Homo sapiens: one gene and its partner. The protein of the gene in region 2 interacts with the protein of the main gene of each other region in a pairwise test. Each region holds a gene or a part of one and is shown on either strand. Other genes may lie near its edges. The genes, in order: ZC2HC1B and GABPA.

Region 1 (3,923 bases), on a different chromosome or scaffold from region 2:
AATAAACAGTCTGTATACACTTAAAGTATCCAGACCAACTTTTCATGGCATCTAAGCCACGTCTATGAAACTAATAGTTTTTATGCTATATTGTAAGTATGTACCTGAGACCTTCGACTGTATGGTGCTGTTTGCTGGCTCCAGTTCTGTGGTTTATAAATCTACTGTCTTCCACTTCAGGTTGTTATTTTACTGATTTGCACCTAATGTTAACAGCTGCTTCCATTCATCCACATATCCCTTTAACTTGCTGATTCTGTGACTTTAAATAAAAGGTGAAGACCCCTCCTCTATAGAGCAAAACACATGACCTGTGGGGCAGTTGCCTTGGGACAGCCTGTCCCACTCAGGCAGTTTCACTTCAGGTTCGCAATTCTTTTCTGGGTGATTAAGGTTGATACTGTTGGATAAAGAGTTTTGCCATAATGCTATAGAAACACTATGTATTCAAGTCTTCACCCAAAGAAGCTTCAAATACTTTAGAAATATTTTTTTCTACAACACCCAAAGGTGCCTTAGCTGGAAAGCATTCTCCTGCAAAAGAAGTCAGCTCCCACAGGGGTGAGCAATCATGATCAGCTCTCTTCACGCTTACACTTCTTAGGATGGGTAACTGAGGTTCTCTAGGGAGTTCTACCGGCTCACCCCTAGGCATTCAAGGGCACAAGAGCCAACACCTGGGGAGAGATAGTTACCTGAGCTCTGGATGCCAATTTGGCTGCTGTCTGAGCTGGATTAAAGACTCGGCGAGAAGACTGATCCTTGCAGAAATTAGTATGTCGCTCAGCTGCGCTTTCATTAAACCTTCTCATACAATATGGACGTTGAATATAATCTGAATGTAAAGATAACAACAAATGGCAATTAGCACTTCAAAAACAACTATAGAATACTATAGAATTATAGAATGAACTACATGAAGTGAAATAAGGATATGATGGCTCATGCCAGTAATCCCAGCACTCTGTGAGGCTGAGGTGAGTGGACTGCTTGAGTCCAGGAGTTTGAGACCAGCCTGGGCAACACGGCAAAACCCCGTCCCTACAAAAAATTAGCCAGGTGTGGTGGTGTGTGCCTGTGGTTCCAGCCACTTGAGAGGATAGCTTGAGCCCAGAAGGTCAAGGCTGCAGTCAGCTGTGATCATGCCACAGCACTCCAGCCTGGGCAACAGAACAAGACCCTATTTCAAATAAGTAAATAAATAAATATGTAAGTAATGATATGAACTCTGCTCCAACATGAAAGAACAAGGTCCCAAACTCTGGTTTGAGACTATTCCAAAGGGCAAGACATGCAGGGCTCAACTAAAGGACATGGCATGGAAAAATGTCACAACCTGTGCATTCATTTCAATTGTCTGTCCTTGAAATGTTTAAGTGATGTACTTTTCCAGAAAAACAAAGAAAATTAATCTTAAGAACTTCTCAATGAAATGAATTATTTAGTAAATCCTGTGTAAAGAAAGTAGTTCTAGAATCACAGAATGTTAGTATTGATGGCACAGTAGGGCACAGAATATTCAAAAGCATAGGTTGTAGTGCTGGGTGGGTCTTAGAGAAGTTACAGAGTTACAGAGGGAGATGGGATGTTTCAAAATGTGGGTTTGGGAGATATGAATGGAAGTCAATGGGACTGTGTCACTGGCAGAAAGACATACTGCTTTTGCAGTGGCTAGATTTTTTTTTTCACTTAACTACTAAGTGAGCAGGCAATATATTCAGGAAGGAGATAGTAATAGGATAAAAGGTGAGGACTCAAAAAACAGAAAAGGGAAAGAAGGAGGGATGATAGGAAAGTTCACCGAAAACAGCTTCAGCTTCCAGAGATGCAATGGCCCAGGCAGCTCCTGTCGGCCCCAGGTTCTCTGTGGTTCTGTATAATATCTTTTTTTTCTTCTTTCATTTGCAATTAACAGACATAATTGGTTACGGAGAGAAATGAGAAGTGGGAAACAGGCAAGATCTTCTTAGAATGTGGAGCTGCTCATAGCAAAACTAGGTTGGCAACTACCCCTCTAAATCAAGCAGGGATTGGTGTTTGCTTTGTTTTGTTTCAGGCACCTTAAAGGGATAGCACACTAGATATCAGCAACATAAAATAATCCCACCGCCCCGACCCCAGGAAGGGTGTGAAACTGCATCAACCTCAAACTCAGTGTAGAACTTGTGTTAGTGTATAGTCAAAATTCCTACATGCGTGGATGGGTATTTCATGTAGTGATGTTAAGAATTTTTTGTAAGCCACCTTTTTAAGCAGTTTGGGGAGTTTCCTATTTGAACAAATCATTTCCTAAAATGTATATTCATAAGATGTAACAATTGTTAAGCACTTAGGAATTATCTGGTAGCCTTATCCTTTATTTCTTACTCCATCCAGAAGGCAGTACCTCATCATTAATTTAACACTGACTGAGCATCTACTTGGTGCCAGGTGCTGTCTTACACCTGGGGATGCAATGTCTCTGAAATCAAGGAGTAAGCATTCTAGCACAGAAACAAATAAATAAAAATTTCACACGGAGATAAATGCCTTGAAAAAAAATAGAACAGGACAGCATTGGGAAATGATAAAAAGCCCAGTGCTGGAGCTTGCCTGACTGGTTTTGAGCCTGAGTTCTTTACTTGCTATGTGTGTGAACTCGGGCAAGTTACCCAACCTCCTTAAGCTTCCATTTTCCCAGCACCTACATATCACCTGTTTCATCGGGTTGTTGTGAAAGTTAACTATGAAAATCCACATAAGGGCCTGGCACAGTGGGCGGGGTGGAACATACTAAATGTTTTGTAAATGCTAGCTATTGCTATAAGGAAACAGGTTCAGCAAGGTTGTGTTTCCAACTACCAAATAGAAGTGAAACTGCCTAGGAAAAAAGTACAATAGAAAGTGCCATTATCATTCAGAATTCATTTACAATGGTTTAGAAGAACCATCTAGAACATGGCTTTTAGCTTGGTGGTTATTTCTTCAATTTTGCCAGCTGGAAAGTGAAGTCTTACATAAGAAATGCTGCAACCATAAACCCTACTCACATTAGGCAAAGACAATGATCATGGCAATACTGAGTTGCTTCCTTAATCCCACTTGCTCATTCACTCACTGCCACCCTTCTGTGTTTGGTACTACATATCACCATGGAGACAGCAAAGTTGAAGTCTATTTCCCTGCCAATGAAAATCTCAGAGATGATTAGGCAAACAGACAATTACTGCTTGGTGGGATAAACTGTAGAAGAAGAGGCACTAGGGCCTCTGGGACCCTACAGAAGGAACATAAGGCCCCACCAGAGGGGCAGAGAGCAGGCAGGAGAGAGTCCTGTGGCTGAGCATTCAAGGTTGCTGATTTCTATTTATGTTGAACTTCACATATTTTGAGAATTGTTGTATTTTCTGCAACAATAATCTGAACCCAGCATAACTGAGCTACATGTTCTACACTCAGCTCAATCGGAGTCACCTCTCTTCCTCTATCAATAATGTTTTCATAAAATCACCATGTCCTATTTATTTCAATAGGTAATGATTTTAAAAGTCAGAGTCCAAATGAATTCTTTCGAGGAATATGGTGGCCAGATCTCAGAGAAAAGTGGAAAACCAAGCATTATTTTAAAATGCCAATATTGTGCTGTGTATCCGTGTCTATGTAGCTATGCAAAATGGTAACTGAATGTCCCAGGCCTCATAGAAAAATAACAATTATAAATATTCTATATCACTGTCCCCATAAACTGTCACAGTATCCTAGAAATTTAAATCATTGACAGACTTAGCTAAGTCACTAAAAAGTAGAATATAGGCATGTCTCAAAAACTGAATCATGAAAATAGGGAATCATGCTGAGGAAAAAAGGGAAATTACTGGCACATTCATGCATGTTAGGCCATGTTATATATAACTCTAGTTATATGTATATAAATTCTTTAGTAC
Region 2 (3,923 bases):
TCTTACAACTTGGTAATTAACAGTCAGTAAAGATGAAACAAATGATGTCCTAACAAATTTTGGTGAACTGAGATACAAAGCAAGCTGTTATGTTAATCGTATCATTTAAAAACACATGAGTGGATCTTATAAAGTACTTGTGTCGAGCTTTCATTCCACAGAACAAAAGATATTTTGTGTGTAGAAAAAAAATTTTTTTAAATAATTTTCCTTTTTATTACCTTGCGGTATCAAATAAACATTTCTTATTAATAAAAGGGCAAATATAGGTACAAATACTCACGTTGATCAATTGTAACTATTTCATTCATCTGTTGTTCTTGACTTGCCAATACATCTGAAAAAAACAAAAATTTTTTGTTTTTATTTAAAACCAAAAATATAAAAACCCCAATCCAATAAAACTCAACTTAATAAACATGGTTCTTTTAAAAAGAACTCCACAATTAAAACCAAAACACTGAACTGAAACTTACTGGCATAAAAACCTTAAAAATATTTGATAGTCACTTTAAAAGGAAAAGATACCTTAAGAGAAATAACACAGGGAAAAGCTCCAATGTCTTTTAGTGTTCAGTAAAGTTCTGCAGAGAACTATGGTTTTCTAAATGTAAACATTTGTATTGAAATCCACATAAAGCCATGTAAAAATATGGAAATCTTCAAGATCAGATCAAAGATAAAATATACACCAAAATTAAATTATTTAGGTACGTATCTCCACCAAAAAGGCCTCCTTCCCATTATTTGTTATAACATCCACTTTTGACTAAAGCTGCTTAAGCTTTATAATGCTTCTACTTAAAGACAGCAAATTTTCAACACAATTGTAGCAGTCCTAAATGTCTCAATTAAACTAAATAATTTCACATTTAAAAATATAGTTCCCAAAATAAAAATACTATAAAGGTCCTGAGATAAGGCTTTACAGAACCATTCATTACTTATCTGTTGTTATTCCCTACTTAGATGTTATTCTTTACCTCTCACAAGAATTGCACATCCCAGTCTCTATTACTTCAGCCTACTTTGTGCCCATCACAAATTGCATGCCTCTCTCTTGAAATTGAAACTATACCCTCCAGCAATCATTCTGGGTACTGAGGCCTGGGCTCCCAAGAAGACTCCGCTAAGGGTGCCTTGCCAGGATCCAGTTCCAGACACGCAGAGCTGGAAAAGGTTGGGGAAGTAAAAAGAGGTCAGAATCCTATCAGATGGGAGCTTTGAGGGTCTGAAGACTGAGGACTTAAGAATTATATGGGACTGGCTTCAGACAGATCTGGATTTAGTTCTTAGCTCTTACTGACTATATGACTTTGGTAAAATTACCGACCTCTTTCAACATTAACTTCTTCAAGTTTAAATTAGACACCTATACTTACTGCCTCATGAGGTTATTGTGAGGATTAAAGAAACATGTTTTTAAAAAGCACAGTGCACAAAACAGTTACTTTTTCAGTCAACTGACAACCTCACTGTTTTATCCAGACTCCTAGTTCTGAGCATTCTCCTCCAGAACTGTGGTCTCTCTTGATAAAAAAAATACGCACTTTATGTTTGTAGTAAATTTTCCTCAGAATTTTATAAAAGTTCCTCAAAGAGGAACTATTTGAGACTAAAGGAACCTAGCCTCAAAAGAGGCAAACGAAAGCATCACCATCACACAGCACAGGCATAATCAACTTGTAAAATCACCTTCTAAGTCCTAATTCTCAGATTGGAGTTTGGTCTGTTTCCTGGAAACTCTCAAGACAGAAGGCAGACCACAGGGGGAAAAAAAAAAAGTTTTTGAAAGACTGGTCCAAGACCAATCTCTTCAAAGTACAGGCACTCTGAATATCACATTCCTCCCTGAAACCTCCAAATCCTTGCTACACACAAAGTAAGCAGTCTTGAGAGGCAAAGCCCTGGGGGATATGGAGCCATTTTATGAAGAAACATTAGACACTACAGGAATAAAACAATTATTTTTCCTAAATAAAACCCTTAGCAAACTGAGAACTTCATTTGCCTTTGGTGACAGAAGACAGAGATTCACACCGAGAAGGACATCATGGAACTGGTAGTACTGGGACATTTCCTAATTATCCTCCCATGTATAGTGGGACTTGGATGTAGTTTCAACATAGGGGGGACTGCAGGCAGGTGGTGGCTCAGGTGAATAATCTCATACAAATATCTGAAGAAGGAGCCCTACCTCTTCAGTACTGCTGCTTCTTGAGAGATCACTGAGGATGGATAATAGAGGCTGGGTTATTAACAGTTCTGTCCCAGAATCAGTGCCTTTCGCAGATAGGCTGCAGACTTCTCTCTACAGAAGGGACCAGAGTACTAACTACACTGAGCTCAAAAAACCCTATTCTGAGAAGTAAGACTTGTGAATTCTAGAAAGTCTGTTAGAAATACCCTTACACATCATCCTGCCCATCTCCCAATTCTGAACTGAGCACTAGATTTCCAAAGCAGATGGGATTTCCCTACCCCGGCAGAGTGAAGAACCATGGCTGGATCACCAAGAAATTCCGTGAGACACTCATCTAGGCTGTGGGACTTTGTTGCTTTAAAAGACAAAGCAATGGTTCCAGAGCAGAGCTTTTCTGAGGAAGACTCATTCAACTGCATGGAAATGGAAAGATACACAAGACACCTTTGACTTCTGTTCTGGGAAAAGCCTATGAATAAGCTTTAAAGTTTGAGAAGCAATAAGAGAACCAGAAAGAGACAGCCACAACAAACAGCTGACCTGGGAAAGACTGGAAAAAACGTGGATTTGGGAAAAATGAAACTACCATCTATGCACTATCTTTGTTGTGTTCTTGAGATTTCTTATAAGAAAGTGTTTCAATAAACATGACTCACATGTTTCACAATTCAGAATCTACCTTATTCATTTCAAAACCTCTGCAGGGAAGGAAATCTGTGAAACCAAGGACAAAGCTTCAACCAGGACATTCAACTTACTTATCTAGTAAGAATGGAAATTGGAAATAAATGCTGCAAATACAATGAATGTACTAAGTCTTTTAGTATCATAGATACTTAAAAAAAACATCTGGGAGAATCCTCACAAGAATAAAATTATAAACAATTAAGAAATGCCTCTCTCCAGAGCTCATTTCTTATTCACCAGCAGAGAAAGCACTTTCAACTCCTCATCTCAAGTGATCTGCCCACCCCAGACTCCCAAAGTGCTGGGGTTACAGGAGTGAGCCACTGCACCTGGCCAGAGAAAGCACCTTGAATGAAAACTGCAAGCATTGAATTACGGTGGAAAAATCCCTCCACCAGAGCTCTCTCCTTATTGGGTATATAATAAAACAAAATGCTATCATTAACATTTTCATCCATAACTGATACAAAAGCAAAGTCAGAGTATGTTGTAGTCATGTGTTCTGAAAAATATGTGGGTCTGGCTAGCATTTCTGATATGCAAAACTGTCAAGGAATGGGTTGCTTTCGGTGTCTTAACAGTGACTGAAATATAAGATGGATTAAAATTCAAGCAAAAATAATTTACATTTGTGCCTTGTTTTCTTGGACAGCCAAGTAGTTTCCAAACTTCTCTCTCTCTTTTTTTTCCAATTGAGACTCTTGCTCTGTCACCATGCTGGAGTGTAGTGGCGCAGTCTCAGCTCACTGCAACCTCCGCCTTTCAGGTTCAGGCTATCCTCTCGCCTCAACCTCCCAAGTAGGTAGGACTACAGACACGCACCACCTTGTCCGCCTATTTTTTGTATTTTTAGTGGAGATGGGGTTTCACCACGTTGGCCAGGCTGGTCTCGAACTTCTAACCTCAAGTGATCTGCCTGCCTCATCCAATTTCTTTACATGGTCACTTAATCATAATAATGTCTGAAGCCTTACAAGTTATAAGTGGAAAAACTTATAACCAATGGCTTCCAATGCCAAAAGGTGGCTGCATA

The links.
Region 1: the proteins of GABPA (region 2) and ZC2HC1B interact in binary tests that used the Homo sapiens proteins (3 or more experiments, as listed by UniProt).

What each region holds. Positions count from the first base shown.
Region 1 is NC_000006.12:143,895,464-143,899,386, reverse strand, and holds part of ZC2HC1B (zinc finger C2HC domain-containing protein 1B), read right to left. Parts: intron 836-3,923; coding exon 696-835; intron 1-695.
Region 2 is NC_000021.9:25,758,726-25,762,648, reverse strand, and holds part of GABPA (GA-binding protein alpha chain), read right to left. Parts: intron 338-3,923; coding exon 284-337; intron 11-283; exon of another isoform or gene 1-10.